7 linked regions of the Homo sapiens genome follow. The protein of the gene in region 7 purifies or fractionates together with the protein of the main gene of each other region. This does not show direct contact. Each region holds a gene or a part of one and is shown on either strand. Other genes may lie near its edges. The genes, in order: STX6, ANKRD22, FYN, PLEKHH3, PPP3CA, STX7 and TMEM200A.

What was found.
Region 1: the proteins of TMEM200A (region 7) and STX6 purify together in Homo sapiens (affinity purification with mass spectrometry; 2 studies listed by BioGRID and IntAct, with this or other methods). This does not show direct contact.
Region 2: the proteins of TMEM200A (region 7) and ANKRD22 purify together in Homo sapiens (co-immunoprecipitation; one large-scale study listed by IntAct). This does not show direct contact.
Region 3: the proteins of TMEM200A (region 7) and FYN purify together in Homo sapiens (co-immunoprecipitation; one large-scale study listed by IntAct). This does not show direct contact.
Region 4: the proteins of TMEM200A (region 7) and PLEKHH3 purify together in Homo sapiens (affinity purification with mass spectrometry; one large-scale study listed by BioGRID and IntAct). This does not show direct contact.
Region 5: the proteins of TMEM200A (region 7) and PPP3CA purify together in Homo sapiens (co-immunoprecipitation; 3 studies listed by BioGRID and IntAct, with this or other methods). This does not show direct contact.
Region 6: the proteins of TMEM200A (region 7) and STX7 purify together in Homo sapiens (affinity purification with mass spectrometry; 2 studies listed by BioGRID and IntAct, with this or other methods). This does not show direct contact.

Annotation. Positions count from the first base shown.
Region 1 is NC_000001.11:181,002,371-181,005,870, reverse strand, and holds part of STX6 (syntaxin-6), read left to right. Parts: intron 1-407; coding exon 408-577; intron 578-3,170; coding exon 3,171-3,265; intron 3,266-3,500. UniProt on the Homo sapiens protein: SNARE promoting movement of transport vesicles to target membranes. Targets endosomes to the trans-Golgi network, and may therefore function in retrograde trafficking.
Region 2 is NC_000010.11:88,824,345-88,827,844, forward strand, and holds part of ANKRD22 (ankyrin repeat domain-containing protein 22), read right to left. Parts: intron 1,772-3,500; coding exon 1,694-1,771; intron 1-1,693.
Region 3 is NC_000006.12:111,695,453-111,698,952, forward strand, and holds part of FYN (tyrosine-protein kinase Fyn), read right to left. Parts: intron 1,005-3,500; coding exon 825-1,004; intron 1-824. UniProt on the Homo sapiens protein: Non-receptor tyrosine-protein kinase that plays a role in many biological processes including regulation of cell growth and survival, cell adhesion, integrin-mediated signaling, cytoskeletal remodeling, cell motility, immune response and axon guidance.
Region 4 is NC_000017.11:42,670,705-42,673,994, forward strand, and holds part of PLEKHH3 (pleckstrin homology domain-containing family H member 3 isoform 1 precursor), read right to left. Parts: coding exon 3,230-3,290; intron 3,131-3,229; coding exon 2,939-3,130; intron 2,853-2,938; coding exon 2,695-2,852; intron 2,593-2,694; coding exon 2,472-2,592; intron 1,689-2,471; coding exon 1,382-1,688; intron 855-1,381; coding exon 647-854; intron 427-646; coding exon 290-426; intron 2-289; coding exon 1-1.
Region 5 is NC_000004.12:101,057,527-101,061,026, forward strand, and holds part of PPP3CA (protein phosphatase 3 catalytic subunit alpha), read right to left. Parts: intron 1-3,500. UniProt on the Homo sapiens protein: Calcium-dependent, calmodulin-stimulated protein phosphatase which plays an essential role in the transduction of intracellular Ca(2+)-mediated signals. Many of the substrates contain a PxIxIT motif and/or a LxVP motif.
Region 6 is NC_000006.12:132,450,617-132,454,116, forward strand, and holds part of STX7 (syntaxin-7), read right to left. Parts: 3' UTR 1-3,500. UniProt on the Homo sapiens protein: May be involved in protein trafficking from the plasma membrane to the early endosome (EE) as well as in homotypic fusion of endocytic organelles. Mediates the endocytic trafficking from early endosomes to late endosomes and lysosomes.
Region 7 is NC_000006.12:130,372,517-130,376,016, reverse strand, and holds part of TMEM200A (transmembrane protein 200A), read right to left. Parts: intron 1-3,500.

The sequences.
Region 1 (3,500 bases), on a different chromosome or scaffold from region 7:
AAAGGCCATATTAGGACTTATCATCTGAGTATAAATTATTAATACTGTCACACCAAGTGGAAGCATGTGGGAATGCTCATTGCCCTTTAGTTAATTTGTAGGATTGCTTCATTATACTTTTACGTATAGTCTGTTCAGAGAAAAATATTAAATTTGTCCTTCCCCAACAAACTTGATATTGTAGCTGCTTAAATAATGGCTATTGTATTCCAAGCATCAGCTGAGAACATAATACTCAGACTGTGTATCAAAGTTTTGAACTTTGATATTTGTCTGTGAAGAGCCTTCTGTGGGAATGGTGGTTGCTGAGGATGGTGTATGATCATAAATGTTAACCTAAATCATGCAGTAACTTGACCATGGAATGTTGTCTGTGATTTCTCTCCTTTGCCTCATCTTGATTACAGAGAGGTACAGAAAGCAGTCAACACTGCCCAGGGATTGTTTCAGAGATGGACAGAGCTCCTCCAGGACCCCTCCACAGCAACAAGGGAAGAAATCGACTGGACCACCAACGAGCTGAGAAATAACCTCCGGAGCATAGAGTGGGATCTAGAGGACCTTGATGAAACCATCAATATCCTTTTCTGTGGTGTCTGTGCCATTCGGGATAAATAGACAAATGGACAAGTTTTTCTCCAGTTGTTTCCAGTATGTAGATGAAACATTTTATAATCGATTAATGTTTGTTGCTCTTACTTGTACCATGACATGTTTAAAGTATTTGCCCAGTAACTTAAGGTACAGTAGCCAAATTCTTATACAGTGTGTGACAAATCCTGTACTATAAATGTATATATATATATAAAGGCAGCATAGTGTAATGATTATGACTGTGGACCCTGGAGTCAGATTTCTGGTGTTCAAGTCCTGCCTCCACCAATGTAAAGGGAAAAAAAAAAAACCCTTTTTTTCTTTTTTTTTTAAGTCTCTACCCTCACACTCAAGTCAGTATGATATTTCTGACACTGTCTACTTGGAGATAGCATCAGGTCCACAGGTTAAGAGCTCAGTCCCACAAGACTGCCCCCACTTCAGATGCCAGTTGCAAGCCCTAGGTTGTGACCAGCGCTTCCAACTGACCACGTATAAATTGGAGTTCCCACGACCCCCTCCATAGATCGAATTAATTTAATTTGCAAGAGCAGCTCACAGAACTCCGGGAAACAGTTTCCTTAGGTTTATCCATTTGTTGTAAAGGATATTACAAAGGATACAGATGAATGACCAGATGGAAGAGATGCATGCAAGGTATGGGAGAAAAGGTGCAGCACTTCCAGGCCCTCTTCAGGTGCCTCCAGGAACCTCCACATGTTCACCTATCTGGAAGCTTCCTGAACTCTGTCCTTTTGGTGTTTGTGGAGGATTCATTTCGCAGGCATGATTGATCACATCAGTTGGCCATTGGTGATCAGCTCAGCCTTCAGCCCCTTTCCCCTGGGGTGGGGTTAAGCAGGGGGCTGAAAGCTTCAACTGTCTAATCACATGGTTGGTTTCTCTGGGGACCAGCCCCTCGTCCTGAGGCTATCTAGAAACCCCCAGCCATCAATTATCCCATTAACATACAAAAGATACTCATCTGGAGATTCCAAGGGATCAAGGAGCTGTGTGCCAGAAATGAGGGGGCAGAGACCGAATTTGCATTTATTACAGTATCACAACCAGTTACCATGTGACTTGGGCTCATCACTTAACCTCCTGTGCTTCCGTTTCCTCTTTAGTGGAAAGTTAGGATAACAAGAGTACCTAGCTCATAGGATTATTGGGATTATACAGGTAAAGAGTTTAGAATGGCACCTGGCACACAGCTTATGTAATAGTGTTAGCAGTCATTATCATATAGAGGTCCATACAGGCCAGTGTTACACTTCGGTAATTAGAGATCAAAAAATCTTTTTGTAGACTGTCTTCATGTTTAAGAAGTGATGTTACAGTGCTACCGTCCATTGAAGAGATGTCTTGTTCCATGAAACTGCATTTAGTAAAAGCAGATCTGCTCTGCTAATTCATGGTATTGATGTGAAGTAAGTCCACTGATCTGACTCATGCACTGGAGAACTGTAAAAACTTCATTATATAGCCTTTTTTTCCAACTGGAAATCCCACTTAACCAAAACTTTAGATGGAAGATATGCCACTTGCATGTTCTGAGTTCTGTTTTGTTTTTTCCCTAAGTGAGATAAAACATAAGGAAACCAGCTTCTGTCAGGATCACCTTATAGTTAGCACAGGTTCGTATGCAGTTGATACATGGAGTAAATAATTTTTGTTATTCATGATGACCCTGGTACCTTTTACATTATTAAAAGGCAAGTATGTTCTCTAAAATTAGTGGCAAATATGTGAGGGGGCAGGATCAAAAGCACAGTTACAGGGAGATAATTCTTCCCTTGAGAAAGGAGGGAAGGAAAAAAAGTTAGGGGAGATAGAGAAAATGTGAGATTAAAAAAACAAAAGTTTTAATAGATACTCATCATTCAACCAGCAAGTGTTTATTGAGTATACTATGTGCCAGGCATTTTGTTGGTTACAGAGATTAGATTAATAAACACTATACCAGCCCTCACAGAACTTTGAGTGGATAGGGATGGGGGACAGATGGTAATCAAGTAATAACACAAATAGATACCTGCAGACTATGAACGAGAAGTATAGAGAGCTATGCAAGTGTCTGACATGGTGCGTCGGACCAGGCTAGAGGGTAAGGGAATGAGGGCAGCTTCTCTGAAGAAGGCCCGATCTCTCTAGATTAAGAAGTAGGGTTAGCATCTTGGCATAATGGGAAGTGGTTTGGAATGGCAGGAGAAAAAGGCTTGCAAAAGCTGTCTTAGTAAAGGTGATCAGGAGTCAAAAAAGGATAGACACAAGTGTTGGCAAACAGGAAGAGCCCAGCTCACCTGTGGTCAGATAGCCCTAAGTGTTTGCAGTGAAGCTCATCAGCAGGGGCTATGCTTCCTAACCAGACAGATCATCTCTGTCTTGGAGCAAAGGGATCCTCCCTCCTGTGGCTGTGGGCAGAGGAAGTCTGAGAATGATTGGTGTCCAGCTGACTGTGTTTTCAGAAAGTTTGAGCCAGATTTTATTTGTTTGCATGTGAGAGATTCAGTGAGTTAACAGGATGTTGTCAGGCTTTGATGATGAAATTGTTTTACCTTGACTTTTTGACCTACGCATAGTTGAAGCAAATCCTAGAAAATTTAACCTTGATGCAACTGAATTGAGTATAAGAAAAGCCTTCATTACAAGTACTCGGCAAGTTGTCAGGGTAAGGAATATGATCTTATTGTGTTATCTGTATAAGAAATAGCCAGACTTCTTAGAGCTCTTTCCCTTAATTGTAAACTAATAGGTCACCTCTGAAACCACTTTTTAAATATGAATTAAATGTGAGCTTCCCCATATATAATTTCTCTGATTGGCTGCGCATGGTGGCTCATGCCTGTAATCTCAGCACTTTGGGAGGTGGAGGTGGGTGGATCACTTGAGCCCAGGGGTTTGAA
Region 2 (3,500 bases), on a different chromosome or scaffold from region 7:
TTTGGCTATCAAGACAGGTTTAGCTCTGGATCCCATTCCCTAGAAACACCTCTAAAATTATAGGAGATCATGTTGCAATTATTTATTTTTATTAAGTGGTGGCATGACAAATGGAAGTTCTGGCTCTGAATTTTGTCATGTGAAATAGAGTCTAATTATCCAAAAATACAAAACACTGTCTTACCTAGAAAGTAGATTTTAATACTCAGATAGTTTTTGAAAAAATTTTGGTATTAGAAGTGGTGTCTGTGTGTGTACCTGCATGTGTCTCAAACTCCTGAGTTCAAGGGATCCTCCCATCTCAGCCTTCCAAGTAGCTGGGACTACAGGCTAGTGTCACTGTGCCTAGCTGAAGGAATGCAATATCTCTATCTAGAGAGAGAAATACACATAAATTGCTGAGAAAATATCCTAGAGAAATTTTGGTCACAGGCAGGAATATTAAATCTATTGAATTTAAATGAAAAGACCAAGAAAAACCTTCAACAAACTTTTAACTTCATCTTTAATAATCTCTTACTTAATATATTTCAAAGCTATCTAAAGAAATGGTAATGCACAGTAACTGTCAATACAAATTTATCCAAAAGTTCTATTTGAAATAAAAGGGAATATAAATTTCATAAAGTTATTTTCTTTTGCTCTCTCTCTCTCTCTCTCTCTCTCTCACACACACACACACACACACACACACACACAACTGCCTGCATTTAAACATGATACCAGCATAGGCAAAACCGAAATGATGTAAATAATTGATAGAAACAGGAATGGGGCCATGGTCTCTATCATAAAACAATGGTAATACACACAGATGTGCACACACGTAAAATATGTTAGGCATCACAAATAGAATGTTAGTATTTTGGAATCAAATTTCCACTTGCCTACTTTTTCAATAAGGAACTGGGAATCCAAAATTTTATTCAATCACCATAAGCAAAACACCATAGAAATAAACTTTTGTCTTTCTGTGATCATTGAGAAAGAAAGATGAGTGCAAGAGCACAGAGGTGAAAGTGAAAACAACACCTTATGCTCATAAACAGGAAGAAGTGAGCGGATGCTGCTACTGTTGTTATCACTGCTCTTACCATCAGTGGGATTTTTCTTTGACCTTTGTCTTATTTATCTGTAGTTTGCACACGGGGCCTCTCATCAGTGGGTTGGGATTTTGGCTGCAGTGGCAGCTGTTGCCATTCAATGAGCACTTACTACATTCTGAGCATGTGCTAAGTGCTTTACATGAACAAGCCCAATGAGATAAGTATTATCCATATCCCCATTTTACCGATGAGGACACTGAAAGTAAAATAAGTTTACAACTTGCTCAAACTCATAGAAGTAAAAAGTGGCAAGCCCAGAGTTTACTCATGGGCATTCTCACTCCAGCTTCTTAACTATTATGGCTGGTATTTTGTTATCGGAGCCTTAGTTTTCCTTAACGTCTCAACAACATTAAAGCCAATTATTTTAAAAATGCTTTATAATCAATAGAGGTATTATTCCCATGAGTTCAGCAGAATATAAATAACCTCAAGGTTGCCTGTCAGTGGGAAAAAAAAGGAGAAAATAAAAGAAAACTAAATGTAAAATTGTCTAGGAAAATAAAGCAACTGTACAGATGACAAATACGCTACCTACAAATACCATTTTGAATATTTTTTCAAAATGGCTAAAAGTATAAACTTACACAATCTGTAGCATTAACTTCGACGCCAGCATCAAGTAGCATTCGTACAAGAGCCTCATTCTGCTTTGTCTTTGATACCTATTACAAATGGTAATTATAAGAAAGGCTTATTTACAAATAGTTTCTCCAATTTATGCCTGAGACTATTTAATCAATAGGCTTCATTTTAATCCCAACACTCCTATGCATGCATGCACCCTTCCTAAAATTTCCCCCAGCTTCTCACTCACTCTAATATCAATTAATTAAAGCCAGGTTCTCAGACTGTGGTCCTGAAGTAGCGGCACTGACACCTAAGAACCTTAGAAATGTACTTCTCAGGTCCCACCCCAAACCTACCTAATTCCACTGAGGATGGGGCCTAGTACCTGTCTTTCCCTTCCTGGCTCAAAGCTGTGCAATTACTTCCCATTGCTCTGAGGACAAAAGTAAACTCTTCAGCATGACCTACAAAGCCCCGTATGTTTTGGCTCCACGTATGGCCCTGCCCTGGCCTCTCTCTCACTCTGCGCCTCCTGGCTCACTCTGTTCTACTTACATTGGCCTTTGTTAATCTTTCATTCTCAGAGAATCATTGCACAGGAAGTTCCTTCTGCCTAGAAGCCTCCTCCCTCTCTTCTTTGCCTGGCATATTCACCTTTCATTCATCAGCCCAAGTCCCTCTTTCTCTAAGAAGCTTTCCCTGACCCACCTGACCAGGTGAAATCCCTCTTTTTTAGCTATCCTAACACCAGTCGCCTTTCTGTATCACCCGCTTTATGGTAATTTTACATGTGTTTGTGCCATTTGATTAATGACTCTCCCCACCACCCTCTAACTCTCATGGGGTAAAAAACTATGCCTATTTTGTTCATCATTGTGTCCCTAACAGCTAGCACAGCGTCTGGCACATAGTAGGTCCATAATAAACATACGTTAAAGAATTGAACAAATTAATGAAATGAACTAGGACTCCTCAGAAATTCACTTTTCCTTCCCAGTCTCCTGAGCTTCTGACCACAAGCCTGTTGGAGTCTTCCCCAACTTCCAGTCTCCTGAAGAGGCAAAGCTCTCCCTGCTCAGCTGGGTATAGCCCTGGAGTTCAACCCTGTCATCACCTGGGAAGCTCCATCCAGTTCTCTCTCCTTAGGCTTCCCTCTTGTGTCACCTCCTAAACTGCCTTTCTCTGCCTACTTTTCTCTGAAATAACCCAATGCTTTCCTCTCTCCTCCCCTATCATTTCCTCTCATGTCACTTATTTGTTAATTCATCACAAATTTACAACTTTAGGCCCCATTAATAAATTGCACGTGCATGAAACTAGAGTTGAGCTATTCATTACGATTACTATTTTTGCCCAGTCCTCCAGCCTCTAAACATTGAACCATCTTAGAAAGCAGAGTTGTGTGTCAATAAATTCTGAATGAGCCTTCTAATCACAGTTGTAATTTTTACCTTTAGAATCTCTAAAAATGTTTGTAAATAAATAACAGATTCTCCCTGCCCCCAAAATACATGTATTTAAATGCTATGTGCTAAATACATAATGAATTTTTAAAGAATTCTTCGAGGATATGAGCAGATTATATTTTTATTAGTGAATTAAAGTTCTTTTCTCTCTCCTATAAATCCAAATATAAAAATCAACATTGTCATGTTTAATTATAGTTCCTCAAATTCTGTGGCATTTAAATACCCAATGAAATAATAACATTTTTGACGGGCAGACTTGTTCTGCGGCTGATGTTAACAGGTGTAACCAATATTCACAGTTTATGAGCTACAACAAGGAGGGAGCTTGGTCATTTAATTAAAGTAAATTATGCAT
Region 3 (3,500 bases), about 19 Mb from region 7:
CCAAAGCAGGGATAATCATTTGCAGAAGCTGGAGGCTTATGATGGTCATCAGTGATATTTTATGCTTTAATCACAAAGTTATTTACAAAATAACCCTGGATACAAAGGACAAACCGTTTGCCAGAAAAAAAAATTCCCATTAAATTTTAAAAGAAAGTACATGGAAAAGAAAAATTACACTGGTATCCTCTGATAAACAATGTATTGCCTTTTAAGGCTGTTTCTTGTTTGGTTCATCTATTTTTCCAAAACAAAATGATCTCTGGCCTTATCCCTAACAATGCTGGTTTGATTAGGAAGACAGAGGGGTTGTAGGGGAGAGAATGTGAGAATAAATGTGGTCTCTGAAAGCATGTAATTTCATCGCCTGACGTTTAAGAAGAGAGCTGGAAATAAAAAAGATGTTGAAATGATGGAGACTAAACTTAGCTTAGAGACCAGTGTCTGATATTAATTGTTTAGCCCTGCAAAAAGGAAATGTAACAAAAGCTACTACATTCAAAATAACAGCAAACTATCATAACCCTCCGTACCACCCTGATATTAAAAATGAATGTTTTAATTATGGAGAGGAGCTTGAATTTCTGACACACATAACATGTAAAAAGTATTTGGCATTTCATAAGGATTTGGGGTGGGGTAAACGCAAGGTTAGTCTGTTTTAAAAAATGTTTTCATTAACGAGCACATAACTGGTGGTTCCTAATGGGAATACTTGACCCAGGCAGAAACTAGAAAAGTAGCAAGTAGGAAACTTCCATTTCTCTCCCCTAAACAACCCCTTAAGGCACTGTGAGCTGGAGACAGGAGAGGTGTTGCCCAACCTTTGTTCATATACTCGGTGACGATGTAGATGGGCTCCTCAGACACCACTGCATAGAGCTGGACCAGCTTGTCGTGCTTCAGCTTCTTCATGATCTGCGCTTCCTCAAGGAATGATTCGGGGGACATTGTGCCTGGTTTAAGAGTCTTTATGGCTACTTTTGTGTTTCCATTCCAGGTACCTACAAACATCCCAGAATATGAAGTCAAACCAAAGATCTTCTTTTGATGGAAAAAGGTTTTGACCACCAGCTATTTGCATAAGATTAGATTTTAAATTTAAAACACTTAATACAGTTTTTGTTGAACAAAGACATTCAATTGCAAGGACTCTGTCAAGTATTTTAACAGAAAAAATGAGTTTATTTGTGGTTATGGCTAAGATGGCTATATTAAGATTTATAACTCATTAAAATTTTTTTAAATTTTGATATATTACCACTCTCTCTTTTTTTGGCTCAGTCATATGATTACACATTTATACCAAAAGCTCTGCACCATACAGTGATGAAAGTCCAGGGGTTGGAACAGGCCTGGCCATCTAATAGCTGTCCCTTAGGGAGTACAGTGTGCATGGAAGAAATTAGATTATTTAAGTTTATGGGGTGTGCCATTTAAAAATATGGCACCACATGAGGATGTCTGGAAATTACCTCTAGACTTTCAATGTCTGCAATGGACAAGTTACTTGACTGAGTCCTTGCACAGGTGTGCCAAGCATGCTGATAAGCACTGGCAAGGAGCTCACAGTCTGCTTGCCAATACTTCAACAAGGTAAGGCAAATTTCCTCAGCTTTACTGATGGCTAGCCACAAGAACAATGGCTTCTGTCAGGTAGGTAGACAGGGGAAATTAAACAGCAGCTGAGAGGGAACAGAAATATTTAAATTTAGCATGTTAAAAAAAAATCTAGCAAATCTGAAGGCAAGGCCTGGATTATGATTGTCCTCAGTTACCTCATCTGTAAAATATAGGAATGGAACTGGATTATCTTTTGGGTCTCTTTCAGCCCCAGCATTCAAAAAACAAAACCATACCTAGGTTCTTTGTGTATTCCATTATTAGACCTATGATGCTTAAGAATAACTTTATAAAGGGGAAGAAATCTGCTAATTTAGATTATTTTCTATTTGAAAAAGAAGACTGGTTTAAATTAAGATTTTTATATTTAATATAACTGACTTTGGAATTTAAGGATTCTGTAAATTGGAGTTCTTATTATCCTGTTAAAGACATGGTTCATACAATTACAACATGCAACCTACAAAATATAAATTATGAAAAAACAAGTGGCTTAAAGAAAAGTTCATTTAAACTTCATAAAATATCTGCCCACTAAGCATTCATGGGAAATTTGACAATTTATAAGTGATCTTTGCTATTTAAGAGTCAGCACCCAAAATTCTAAATACATTAAGATCTTCCTCTGTAATACAAACTTCGTCAATTACACAGACATCCATCCCAATTCTGATGGGCATGTTGTCTTGTGTTTATTGGAAAACAAAATGTGAACAGTATATGTAATGATTTAAAGTTGATATTTGTAAAATTTGAAAATAAATTTTCTAATAGGGTCCAATTCTCTGTGATTGTGTGAGTAATTTGACTAAAATCCTCTATTATTAGAGGGTGAATGAGGAAGAAGGAGGTCATATATTTTACGATACTTGAGATTAAGTCCAGAGAGAGATGGACACAATAATGTGGATTTATTAAACTAGCTAACTCATACATATATATGTGTATGTCTGTCTACTACCTATTTATCCACCTAACATACCTACATACATCTTTGTAGTACTTATCATTTGCTGGGCTATGTTTTAAGTGCTTTAACTGTATTAACTCTTTTTTTTTCTTTTCTTGAGACGGAGTTTCGCTTTTGTTGCCCAGGCTGGAGTGCAATGGTGCAATGGTGCGATCTCCGCTCACCGCAACCTCCACCTCCCAGGTTCAAGTGATTCTCCTGCCTCAGCCTCCTGAGTAGCTGGGATTACAGGCATGCACCACCATGCCCGGCTAATTTTGTATTTTTAGTAGAGGCAGGGTTTCTCCATGCTGGTCAGGCTGGTCTCAAACTCCTGACCTCAGGTGATCTGCCTGCCTTGGCCTCCCAAAGTGCTGGGATTACAGGTGTGAGCCACTGTGCCCGGCCACCTGTATTAACTCTTTTAATGCAGACCACACCTAAAGATCTATACCCACACGTAGCAAAGGGTACTGATCGATATTGTTTTTAATGAGTTCTGAGGAAGGAAGATAGAGGATTCCATAAGTATTAATATTGTTTTACTGAAACATGTTTTTGAGTGGGGCCTAAACCCATGAATTGTTTCTAAGCAAAGCTGTAACTGACCCAAAAGGGCTATAAAAGAAATTACAAAGGCCCAGTGCAGCCAGCCTTATCAATGACAATCAAATAAAGAGAAGTATGTATCTCTACTGAATATCTACTATCTGCAAGGGACTTTAAACATATTAACCCATGTAATCCTAAAAATAATCCTTTAAATAAGTATCATTCCAGCCGGGCGTGGTGGCTCACGCCTGTAATCCCAGCACTTTGGGAGGATGAAGCTGGCAGACCACCAGGTCAGGAGATCGAGACCATTCTGGCCAACATGGTGAAACTCCGTCTCTACTAAAAATACAAAAATTAGCTGGGCGTGGTGGCA
Region 4 (3,290 bases), on a different chromosome or scaffold from region 7:
GCTGCAGAAGAGGAGCGGACGAAGCGCTAGGGAGAAGCCGGACCCCTACGGCGAGGGCAGCTTGGGGTGGGGGCGGGGCCATGTGTTTGGGGCGGGGCCTGGGCGGAGCCGACAGCGGAGGTGATGCTGCAGTCGGACTGCAAACCTGCGGCGGGCAGGTCCGTCTGTAAACCAGCGAACACCACAGCGCAGGGCCAGGGGCAAGCGCTGGATAATGTCCGCTTAGAGACTGACCTCAGCTGAGAAGTGGATGGGCTAATAGAGAGCAGGGCTGGGGCTGGACATTTACTTCTCAAACCTGGTGAGCACGTCGGCCACGAGGGTCCCCCCAGCCAGGGCTCGCTCCTGGGCCCCTCGCTGCTCGTACAGCGCGAATGCGTTGCGGCTCCGGGCCAAGCCCAGCCGCCCCACCAGCTCTCGAGCCACCTAGAAGAGGAGGGTGAGGGGAGACCACTCAGAGGTCTTGCCAGGATTCTGGGAGGGGTTGATTCAATTGGAAGGGGTCTCTTAGTCCTGTCACCACCACTCCCTCCCTTACCAAAATAATCTAGACTCGGGGCAAACCTAGGGTCCAGGAAGAGGGAGAGACAGGCGTGAGAAGCTGGCAGGGTGGGTTGGAGGTCATGGGGCCTTTCTCTGGCCTCACCTCCCCCGCCGTGGTGTGGGAGTCGATGGCCACAGCACAGGCACCAGCCCCCGGACAGTGCACGGTACACAGCAGCTCCTGCCGTTGGCTCAACGCGGAAATCTCCGCCAGCGAGGGCACCAGCTCTCTGCCGCGCGTCCGGCCCAGCGCTTTCCGGATGAAGCGCGCATATTCCGCCAGTTCCGAGTCCGGGAGTGCCTGCTCGGTCCTGGGTTAGGAGGAACCCAGGGATCAATACTCCAAGGGCTTTCTTCTCCCCCTCCCTCTTGCCTGCTTCTCTTATAGTTTATTTTATCTAGCCGATTTCCTCCCCGCCCCAACTCAAGTTCTTTGAAGGCTCTTCTAAATCTCTCCCCAGTGCTTTGCATAGAGCTGAATTACTTTTCAAGTCCCCTGGCAGCTTTCTCCCAACTGCCTCCACCACTTCCAAAAGTCTTCGTGATCTTCCTTCGGCCTGAAATCGAAATCCAGCCACTTTACTACATTTTCCTAAGCCCTGGCGCTGGCCTGCATCAGCTGGAGGAAAAGCAGCCTTTTCATAACTCCTCAGCCCAAGGGGGGCGTTTTATTGTAATTCATCCGCTCACAACTGCGATAGGATCTTGTATCTCCCACAAAGGCACTGTATGTATTACTCGGTTCTTTACCTACCAAGTCTTTTGCAAAAGACCTTTCATTCTCTCCCAGCCCGGTAGCTCCTCGCCTAGGCCGTAACCCCCACCTCGCCCCTCTCACCTCTCCAAGTGCCCCAGGAGGTGCCCCCGCACAGCTCCCCCAGGTCGGAAGGTGCAGCTCATGCAGGTGAGGAGTTGCCAGTACCGCAGGGCCGCAGGGTCTTGGGTAGCCGGGAGCCCGGGGGGACCTGCAGGGCCCGAGGTCTGCTTAGCCAGCTGCAGGAAGAGTTCATCCCGGAGCGCGGGCAAGTCCCGGCAGGTTTGGAGCACACCCTGCATCAAGGGCCCGGGGCGCCGCGCCCCCTCCAGCGCCTGCAGCGCCAAGAACAGCCGCACCGCCTCCTCGCGCAGGGGTGCATAGCCCGGACCTGTGGGAGGGTGGGGGCGGAGGGACGGTTTGGAGAGGGGACACAGAGCTGCGCCCTGGGAGGAAGGCATGAACCAGGGGAAGGTCAGAGGGAATATAAGGGGATGGGGTGGCAGGGAGGGGAGGGTACGAACGACAGGAAGAGTGAAGGGAAAGCAGTGGTCCCACGGAGCCAGACTCTCAACCTCTGCCTCCCAGGAATCCCCTTCCCAATCCCACTAAGCCTGCATTTGGACTTAGGGAGACGGACGGCCGGGAAGGGCTGTAGATTCACACCCCAGATTCTGTAACTCCATACTGAGGCTCACCACCATAGGTCAGAAAACAGGCTGGACTAGGAGTCAGAAAACCGGGGTTCCTCTCCCAGCACCCTTTAATCCTCTAACTTTAGGACCTGGGCCAGTCACTACACCGTTTAGGGAGAAGTACAGTTGGATGAGGCCAGCACATTCTACAAAAGTGGTAGCTTTTCTACCACTTGTAAAGGTAATATGGCATAGTCTCAAGAGGATAATGAAAAAATAGGGGAGTGTACAAACTCCTGAAGGAACATCAGTAGTCAGAATGAGACCCATAGAGAAGGTGGCCAAAGGGGGCCCTTTTGTGTGTGCTGGCTTCCTCTCCTCCACCCTGGCCAGCTTCCAGTTTCACCTTCATCCTTCGAAAAGTGAGGAGCTGGCAGGTCCATGAAGGATGCTTAGATCCCTGCCAGTTAAGGGATTCAGATTCTTACCTCTGAACCACCCCATCCCATCCAGGGGACTTGGGCCATGGGACCACTCACCTGGGGCGCTGACTCCATAGGGCAGGGGCAGGAGTGGGGCATACAAGGCTCCACTAGTGTGTCTCAGAATCGGGTTCCTCAGGTAAATGAGGGCAACGGCCTCTGGGTCCCCGCAACTTTCCTAGGGGGCCAGGGAGAGGGTCACCTTGATGGGGAAGGGAGTTCCTCACAACCCCAGAAAGCTTTGGGGTCCACCACTCTCCTGGCTCTCCCTGGTGTGTACCTGTATGTCCCTGAGCAGTAGCTGGGTGGGGGTCTCCAGGGGTGCCTTGGAGGCGATCACTTCCCGCAATGCCACCCCCCAGCGCTCAGCCTCTGCCTGGCGTGGGGAGCAGAGGCGGACACTGTGTTTCCGACCAGACACAGTCACTGACCACAGACCTGGGGAAAAGAGAGGCCAGGGAGGGCCATTAGGGTCTGCCGGGGCCCCTGCCTAGGAAGGTAGGAGAGTCCCCAGGAGGTCTCACCTGTCTCCTTACGCCTGCGCTCTGGGCCGGTCACCGAGCACAGGCTGGTGAGCACGAGGCTCCCGAGACGCCGCGCCCCTTTCCCGCTGCTGCTGAACTGATCCAGGGAGTCCCGCGTGAGCACAAACCAGGCTCGGCGCGGGGGCAGCCAGGGCCGCGCCCCTCCTCCGCGGGGCTCCCGGTACAGCCAACCTGGGGGCCGGAGAGGGAGGGAAGGGACATCAGTAGAGACATTAATCCCTAGGGGGTTGGGATTGGGGGCCTCCAGAGTGCACTGAGGGGGGTCTCTACCTTTCACAACGATGTCCGGGTCGTCCTCCGGCAGCCCTTTCTCCGGGATGAGGCTCCAAGT
Region 5 (3,500 bases), on a different chromosome or scaffold from region 7:
TCAATGTTCACACTGAACATGATCTTAAACTTGCATCTAGAAAAGTGTGGGCAGACAATACCACACTAATGCTGGCCCGGCAGTTTCCAAATTCAATGGAGAGGCATTCAGCATTCTCCTATTATCACCCTGTTTAGAAAGGAGAAAACTATTCAAAAAGGGTAAATGTAGAACCTAATATGTTTTTCCCAAAGCACCAGCTTCTTCTCAATCATAACCTATCGTGAATGCATAATGTATACAATGCCTCTCCTTGTTGAATTTAATTTCTCTTTTTCAATTCCTCTGGGCTCTTTTTCTATGAAATTTGAATCTGATGCTGCTCATGGAACCAAGGCCTGCACTGCTATCATATGCTGGCAAAGCCCAATCAGGCAGAAGGATCTTTTCTTTTCACCTCTCCTCATCTCTTTCTTCCTCCTCCTCTCATATGTACATATACAAAAGAAATAAAACATAAGATTAGATGATTGTTTCTCTTTAGTTTGACTAAGGGAAATACACCAACAAATTTTAAATAAGATGGAGAAAAAAGGTAGAAAAAACACCCACATACTACTGGTTAAGTGAGGTCCATGAGACAGGAAACCAAGGAAATTAAATTGTCTATCCCTAAAAATTATATAGCAATAATCTTATCTCTTTCTGCTAGCTCCCAATCTGATAAGTTATAGACACATAGGACTTTTAATATGCATTGAATACTTTAATTAGCCTGTGTGTAAATTTTGCTTAAAATTTTGAAAACACAAATCTTATTGTTAATATAGCTAAGCAGAAATAAATTAAAGCAGAAGAAACTGTTCAGAAAGATAAATAACTTAATGATGTTTAACTTGACAGGAATGGACCACTGAAGGAAGTTGACAAAAGTGAGAGATAAAGCTCATCTTTTCTAGCTGGTAAGAGCAGGTTAGGCATTCCTGACCATCTTCCTCCCTGCACCTGGTAGGACAAAATTTCTCTGCAGGACTGACTTAAAACTTAAAGAGTGGTAAAGGGGGAATTCAGGGGTCTGCTTAGAAAGAAAAAAATTCTTCCAAGGACCTTAAGACAAACATGCACTCCTACAATTGGAATTAAAACAGAGTTTAAAAAGCAATTGGTGGTGAGCACAGCACATTGATTAGAACTAATTATTTTAAAATAAAGTAACTGACAAAACAAATCCTTTCATGTAAGTAATTGAGATGGTGAGTAAAGGGAACTTACTAGAAGTGAAGTAAGCACAGGGTTAGTCTTGGTAATGTTGGTAACTGTGCAGGAATAACATGTACCAGTGAAATGTGCAGTCATTTTGGCTATGGTACCTGGTACTTAGTAGATACTGAATATATATTTGCTGAGTGAATGGATTAACATAAAAATTACAAACATATGTAGGTCTACACATTCTTATTCTCTACAGTATGTTACATTTTTGTTCTCTATATCATAAATACTGGCCAGTGGACTTTGCAAAAAACAAACATTTATTAATAGGGGATTATTATTGTATTAATGTTAATCTTTCTTTTAAAGAATAAAAGGAATATAGTGAAAGGTACATACTGAAAAACGTTTGTTGATGTTTATGATTTAGGTTCCATTTGGTTAGTATTCTTTTAGGAAAAAATTTCTGCCATTCTGAAAACAGTGCTATCATTTAAAAGATAACAGTAGCAAACTGTGGCTATAACATATGAAACATCTAGAATTTAGATAAAGCACAAAATGTCCATTGATCTCTTGCATATTTCAAAATATGCCAATATATTTAAGTTCTTATATATTCTTAATTTTAGCCCAGTAAAGTTGTTTTTTAAATATATCCATTTTCCCCTTTCCTTCCCTATGTTGCACATCTCCTTGCGATGTGGTATATGACTCAAAAATAGTATATGAAGACAAGTAATAAAGACAAGAGAAGTTATAGAGGAGAAAAACTATGAGATGTTAAAAATAAATCTCATACATTAAATTTACCTGAGTATATAGACTCTATTTACATGAGTGTATGAACAGGTTTATTATACTTTTGCCTGCAGCATTAGGTATTTTGCATTTATACCCATGACCTGTATCAAGCCCAGGTAAACATTAAATCATGTCATTTGGAAACCAACTTTTAGAAAGGACCACATTCTCTTTTCATTTTACTGAACTGCAGTTTTTAAAGGTATACATTTTATCCATTTAAACTCACCATAATATCTAGTTTCCCTTGCCCTCTTCACCCTTTATTTATAATTTGTGTCATTTTATTGATATTATTAGTTTATGCATCAGTCTCTCCAACCAGTTTGCAACTTCTTCAAAGAATAGGTTTTTAATGCATCTTGTAGCCCTGGGTGTCCTGAATCTAGGACCTCTGAGTATACTTTAATCTCCAGACTACTTAACAATACTGAACACAATGTCAATGCTATGTAGATAGTTGTTAAACTGTATTATTTACGGAAAAATGACAAGGAAAAAAAGTCTGTATGTGTTCAGTATAGATGCAACTTTTTCTTGAATTATTTTCAATCTGAGGTTGTTTGAATCCATGGATGCAGAACCCTCAGATACGGAGGGCTGACTGTACTGCTTTTATTTTTGAGATGGGATCTTGCTCTGTCACCCAGGCTGGAGTACTGTGGTATGACCATGGCTCACTGCAGTCTCAACCTCCTGGGCTCAAGATTTCCTCCCACTTTAGCCTTCTGAGTAGCTAGGACCACAATCATGCACCACCACACATGGCTAATTTTTTGTAGAGATGAATTCTCCCTAGGTTTCCCAGGCTGGTCTCAAAATCCTGGTCTCAAGTGATCTGCCTCAGCCTATCAAAGTGCTAGGAACCACTGCACCCGGCCTCAACTGTACTTCTTAAATGCAGTAAAGTTTGCTCTTATGCTTTTCTTCTCTAAGTACATTTTTGTCAGTTTCCATTCATTTTGAGGTGCTTTTGTAAGACTCAGGGTAATTTTCCCCTTCATCTTTAACTTCATGGATCTGTGCCTCTTGCAGAAAAAGCATACCCTTTGAGGGTAATTAAACACCAAGTAATATCTTAAAAAACATAAAAAACTCCTCACAGTTTATTCATTACCTATTACTACAGAAAGAAGAAATATTGGGATTGAAATAAATACCAATATATCAATATGTAAATGCCTTTTTCATCATAAACATCAAAACTTGAATAATTGATGTGAGCAACCCCATTAGAGGACATTTTTAAATTGCCTGGTAAAAGAAAAAATAATTGTCCAGTAATTGGTAACATCTGTTAGAAAATAAAGGATTAAATTTGTATCAAAAAGCCAAAAAAGGTCACTTAGCAATGTGAGCTACTGAAAGCTTATTAAAACAGTTTACTACTTTAACAATGTTTTTAAAGTAATGAGAAAATTCTCATGATATTTGTTTCTTATACTTTTAAAAAGTAAACAGAAAATGAAATCATATCTTTTATTCTCAATAATGTTACGTTTTAAACATAATCCAAATCTTAGAAATTTATTCTTAGATTTAGC
Region 6 (3,500 bases), 2.1 Mb from region 7:
AAAAATGCAGGAATCAATATGAAACACTTAATTGATAGGCTCAATAGCAGAATGGAAGCTACTGCAGAAAGAATGAATAAATCTGAAGATAAAATGATAGAAATTACACAGTCTGAACAACAGAAGAAAACAGGCAGAACAAAGATGAACAGAACCTCAGGGACTTACGGAACTACAATAAATCTAACATTTGTGTCATCAGAGTCTCAAAAGAAAGAAGAAAGAAGGAAGACTGAAAAAGTTCTTGAAAAAAATGACAGCTGAAAACTCCCCAAAATTGGCAAAAGACATAAACATATAGATGGTGAGAAGACCTCAAATATAATAAACCCCCCAAATCTACAAGATACATCATGGTTAAACAACTAAAAACTAAACACAAAGGAAAAAAAGAAAAAGAAAAAAGACAAATGACACCTATCTATAGGGACCAAAACAATTTAAAAAACTGGATTTCTCATGGGGAACCATGAAATTTTCTTTCCTTTTTTTTTTTTTTGACAAGGAGTCTCGTTCTGTTGCTCAGACTGGAGTACAGTGGTGCGATCTCAGCTCACTGTAATCTCCGCCTACGGGTTCAAGTGATTCTCCTGCCTCAGCTTCCCAAATGGCTGGGATTACAGATGTGCACCACCATGCCGGCTAATTTTTGTATTTTTAGTAGAGGCGGGGTTTCGCCATGTTAGCCAGGCTGGTCTCAAACTCCTGACCTCAAGTGATCTGCCCGCCTTGGCTTCCCAAAGTGCTGGGCTTACAGGCGTGAGCCACCCCTCTTGGCTGGAAGTGGCAGAACAATTTTCAAGTGCTGAAAGAAAAGAACTATAAACCTACAAGTCTATGTCTAATGTAAATATTCTTCAGATATCAAGGGAAAATCAAGACATTTTCAGATGAAAGAAAACTGAGAGAATTTGTTGCCAATGGAACTACAATAATAATAATAAGGCTAAAGGAGTGCTCTAAACAGAAAGGAAATGATAAATGAAGGAGTTTTGGAATATCAGACATCAAAAGTCTAACAAAAAATACAACCAAAAACTCTACATATAAATCTGAGAGCTTAGATGAAATGGACTAATTCATCTAAAAATACAAACTGTCACAACTCAATATGAAATAGATAAATTAAACAGCCATATAACTATTGTAAAAGTGGAAATTACAATAAAAAGAACTCCCTCCCCCAAAATCTCCAGGCCCAGATGATTTCATTGGAAAGTTCTATCAAATGTTTTAAAAAGCGCTGACACCAATTCTATACAATCCGCTTTAGAAAACAGAAGAGAAAGGAATACTTTCCAGTTCATTTTGAAGCTAGTATTACCCTGATACCACCAACCAGTATGTCGCATTAAAACAGATGCAAAAATCCTTAACAAAATATTAGCCAAAAGAATTAAGCTATATATACAAAGATACACCACGACCAAGTGGAGTTTATCTCAGGGATGTAACAATGGCTCAACATTCAAAAATCAATCAATGTATCTACCACATGAATGGGCTAAAGAAGAAAAATGGCATTATGTAAATTAAGGCAGAAAAAGCATTTGACAAAATTCAACATAAAATTCATAATAAAAACTTGCAGAAAAAAAGGAATAAAAGATAACTTCCTTAACTTTAGCAAGAGCATCTACTTTAAAAACCTACAGCTAACATTATACTTCATGGTGAAACACTGAATCCTTTCTGCCTAAGACCAGAAACAAGCCAAGGATCTCTACTCTCACTGCTTTTATTTCTGCTGGAATTTCTACCCACTGCATTAAGGGACTGAAAGGAAAAAAAAAAGGAATATAGGTCAGAAATGAAGAGATAAAACTATTCATTATTTGCAGATGACATGACTATCTATATAAAAAAAAAATCCCAAGGAATCAATCAAAATCCCCTAAAATGAGTAAGTGGGCTCAATAAGGTCTCAGTATACAAAATAGAAAAATTCACTTTATTTCTATGTACTTAGAATAGACATGTGAACAGGAAATTCAAAATACAATGCCATTTACAATCTCTCTCAAAAATTAAATTGCTTAGGTATAAATCTAACAAAACATGTACAGACCTTGTATGCTGAAAACCACACAATACTGATGAAGGAAAACAAAATTTAACTGAAATGAAGTGAAGTGATCCTGTGATCATGATCGGGAAGGCTTAACATGGTAAAGATGTCAAATCTCCCCAAATTGATGTATAGGTATAACATAGTTCCTGTCAAAATCCCAGTAAGATATTTGAATAGATACAGACAAGATTATTCCAAAGTTTATACGGGAAGACAAAGGAACTAAGTGGCTAAAACAATTTTGAAAAAGAAAGTGGAATAAACCAGCCTATTTGATTTCAAGACTTACTACAGTAATCAAGATTTTGGTGTTGGTGGAGGTATAGACACATAGTCTAATGGAAAAGAATAGAAAACCCAGATATAGACCCACACGAATGTGCCCAACTGATTTCTCATTAACTCATTTTTGCTCAACTGATTTTTGACAGAGGTGCAAAAACAATTCAATGGACAAAAAAGAGCCTTTTCGACAAATATCATGTTGGAGTAATTGAATATCCATAGGCAACAACAAAAAAAATGAACCCAGACCTAAGTCTCACATTTTATACAAAATTAACTGAAAATGGAATATAGACTTAAAAGTAAAACGTAAACTATAATACTTTTAGAAAACAACATAAAAGAGAAAATTTGGGGGATCTAAGGAGAGAGGCAAAGTTCTTGATACCAGAAGCATGATCCATAAAAAGAAAAATGGATAGAGTGGACTTCATCAAAATTAAACACTTCTGCTCTGTGAAAGGCCCAGAAAAGAGAAATGAAAAGACATGCTACTGACTGGGAGGAAATATTTGCAAATCACACATCCAACAAAGGACTAGTATCTAGAAAAAAATACACACACACACACACAGAGGCACACACACACATTATTTAAAAGCCCTCAAAACTCAACAGAAAAAAAATCCAATTAGAAAAGACATGAAGAAACATGTCACTAAAGAAGAGATACAGGTGGCAAATAAGCATATGAAACAAAGATGCTCAACATCATTGCCATTAGCGAAGGGAAAATGGTAAATCAAAACTGCAATGAGCTGTCACTATACACTTATCAGAATGACTAAAATAAAAAAGAGACACCACCAAATGCTGAAAAGGACATGAAGCAACTAGATCACTCATACACCACTGGTGGGTATATAAAATAGTACAGCTACTTGGTATAAGTTTGGCAATTTCTTAAAAACTAAACATTCAACTACTATATGACCCAACTACTATATAACTGCTGGGCATTTGACCCAGAAAACTAGATTATGTTCACACAAAAACTTGTACACAAATGTTTATAGCAACTTTATTTATAGTAGCCAAAAACTGGCCCAATGTCTCTCAGCAGGTGAACAGTTAAACAAACTGTGGTACATCTATACTATGGGATTCTATTCACACTAAAAAGTACCTGTCAATAGACTTGATA
Region 7 (3,500 bases):
ATATTTATAAATTTATTAAATATATTTACGTTATATTTATATTAAAACCCCTTTGTAGGGAGACATACTGTATATGAAATGTCTTCAGCCATATAGTGATATATGACATATCTTGACCATAACTACATATAGTCTCTAATGTGAGCATTGTTTTTGCTCCCAATACCAATATCATCATTACAGTGAGGTAATACTTTGCACTCTTCATCTCAACACTCATTTTTAATAAATGACCTCAAACATCATGCTCCAAAAGAGCAACCTTCTAATGGCTTTCCAGTGCACTGAGTATAAAACCTACTCCAATGCCCCCTCCCCAAATATGTGAGGCTGGCTCCTCATTCTCTCGCAGGTTGTAGCTTAAATGCCTCAAATGCAGAGAGGTCTTCCTTGACCATCTGATCTAAATGAGCGCATGCACTCTCTATGACATCAGATTTCTTGACTTCCCTTACAGCACTTTTTGAATGCCTGAAATTGCCTTGCTCATTTATATGTTTCCTGTTTGTGTCCTCCATTTACAATGTAAGCTCCTCCATAACTTTTTGTTTTGGTCATTACTGGATCCCCAGCTGGCAGCACAAATATTTAATGAATCCTTTATTAATTAATAAACCTTCTCCTGAGCCAAGTTTACTTTTTAACGCATGTTATAAGAGATTTTATGTGTCTTATAAGTAAGTAAATAAATGTATAGGCATAAATTCCTACACAGTGTTCTGCGTTATTGTTGTGTAAGAAGATCTGTCTCATATTTGACAAAATGAGTCATAATATAATTTAACAGCACCTGCTGAATGAATCTCTCTAAATAATCATTTGTTGAACAAATGAACGAAAATAATTTTGTTCAAAATTACTGACTGAGATCCATAAAGGAGAATAGAGTTATTACAATAGAATAATATCCTTCAACTTTTAGAAGAAAACCAAAACATTTTTTATTTTAGTTGTAAATTATTTTTGTAGGAATATAATAGTTGTGGAAAAATTGAAATTGGCACTCAAAAACCACCTCAAATTGACTGCTACTGTAAGTTTAATAGTTCCCTTTACTCTCAGTAAGTGTTTTTAGACAATAAAATACCCTGCAGAGGTATGTGTAAGATCCAAATTCCTCTTCTGGAATAAGTCAAAGTTCATTGCCATAAAACTAGGTACTGTGATGTGGTTGAATTTTCTTTGGAAAAGAGAGTAAAACCAGAAGTTTCAAAATTCAGGAAGTTTGTTTCTGGGCAATCAGTGACTAACATTATAGAAGTTTTCTAGGGGAAAAATCTCAAGCATTTTCATGGCCAGGTGAGGTTGCTCACACTTGTAATCCCAGTACTTTGGGAGGCTGAGGTGGGTGGATTACCTGAGGTCAGGAGTTCGAGACCAGCCTGGCCAACATGGTGAAACTCCATCTCTACTAAAAATAACAACAACAAAAAATTAGCCTGGCGTGGTGGTGTGCCCCTGTAATCCCAGCTACTCGGGAGGTTGAGGGAGGAAAATCGCTTGAACCTGAGAGGCGGAGATTGCAGTGAGCTCAGATCATGCCACTGCACTCCAGCCTGACTGGTGACAGAGCGAGACTCCGTCTGAAAAAAAAAAAACAAAAACAAAAACAAAAACAAAAACTCAGGCATTTTCAGATCCCACCTCCCAGCAAAACTTTGTCTAAGGTCATCTGCTAGGGACATAGCCATGGACAAAACAGTTACAGGCCTGCTCTCACTTGGGTTACAGCCCCAGTGAAAAGTGCAGTTAGAACACTCCATGACTACTAGGACCTAATATCCAAGGCTACAGAGGCGGGGCTGTCAGGGGTTTAGCTCTGCAAAAAGGGGCTCTCATCCTACATCAATCAACTTCTCTCACGGGCTGTTCCACAGCAGAGTCTGAAGAGTCCCCAAACAGGATATGTATAACACTGGCTTTCAAAAAATCATTCACAAGCTACTTTTTTCTATCATGGGCCCCTATCTGCATGTTCAGAAACATAAGTAAATTTTTAAAAGTGAAATGAATCACAATATCTTACATAGTCTACATTCTAAAAGGGAGATTTGGGTAACAAAGGAACAAAATCAGCAGTTAGCATAAACTATTCTTTTTTTCAAAATGGTGGCTTTTTTAAATTTAAAAATAAAAACAATCACCTAGTGAGAGCATGTGAAGGGTAGTTCCATGCACTGTCAGTCATAACTTCAGTTATTTGAAAATCAGTTTGGCATTAAGTATCAAGAGCCTGAAATTTTCATACCCTTTGACCCAGGAATTATCGTTCCACGAATCTTTTTAAAAGAAGTAATCTGATAAACATATATAAAATGGAATATAAATGCATTTATAACCCTTATGCACAAAAAACAGATTCTGAAATTTGAAGAAAGATTCATCAAAGTGCCATTTATAATATCAAATATTTGGAAATGGCCTAAAAGTTCAATTTTAAGGGAATAGTTAATAAATTATGATATGTCCACATAATCCAATATTATACTGACATTAATAAAGCTTGTCTAGAAGTTGGAAAATATTAAGACATAAGATTAAGCAAACAGAGTAGGTTGTAATACACTATTAAGCATTATGGAAAAAATCATTAAAAATAAGGAGAAAGAAAATGCCAAAATGTTATGAGTGCCTTTGGGTCATAGGATTACAGGCAAATTTTCTCCCTGACTTTTTATACTTAATGTATTTTTCTAAGGTTTTTATTGGGAGTGTGTATCGCCTTTATGATTAGAAAATCTAACAACATCTCTTCAGAAATGCTAACTCCATTTTATTGCAAATACTTGCACATGTATGTTCACTAAGCCGATCTGACTTACTTTGCCAAGGGAAACAAAATTTGTGTCTCTCCTATGCCAACCTCAGCTTAGAGACAGTACTGAGATTCTTTGGATTCATCCTGCATTTAAGCCCAAAGATGTTGATTCTCAAAAGGAAAATACTTTTTTTTCTCCCCAGCAGTTGCTAATCTATCAGCACCTCTGTGATTAGCTCACTATTTACAAGAAAGAGCCTACTCCTATTCACCATTGCTTTTGTGTCACAGGCCTCTAATATTCTTTGCATATCTCTACCAGCTTTATTTCAAAGCATTGTAACCATTTGTTTACATATTATTCTATTGAGTTGTTCTAAAAGTTTTACACATGGTTGTTTTACCTCTCCGAATAGGCTACAAGGTTCTCATAAATACTTCTATTTTTATACACCTTCTCATTCCCCTTCCTCTTGTTGTACATACATACACAGTCAATTGCGCACACATCCAGTCACACACCTAAGCAGATACAAATTTGGCCTTGTATTTGTTGGGGAACGATATGATGTCACTCACATTCTATTAGTAACTCATTTTATTTAGAGCATCCTCAAGTACACACCTTTGTAACTAGAGTGTTTCATGAACCTGCTACATTCAGCATGTGCTAGCGAGTGTCCTCTCTCCCTCTCTATATGTATCTACTTCTCATTTTTTCACATTTCAGGGCAGAGTATCT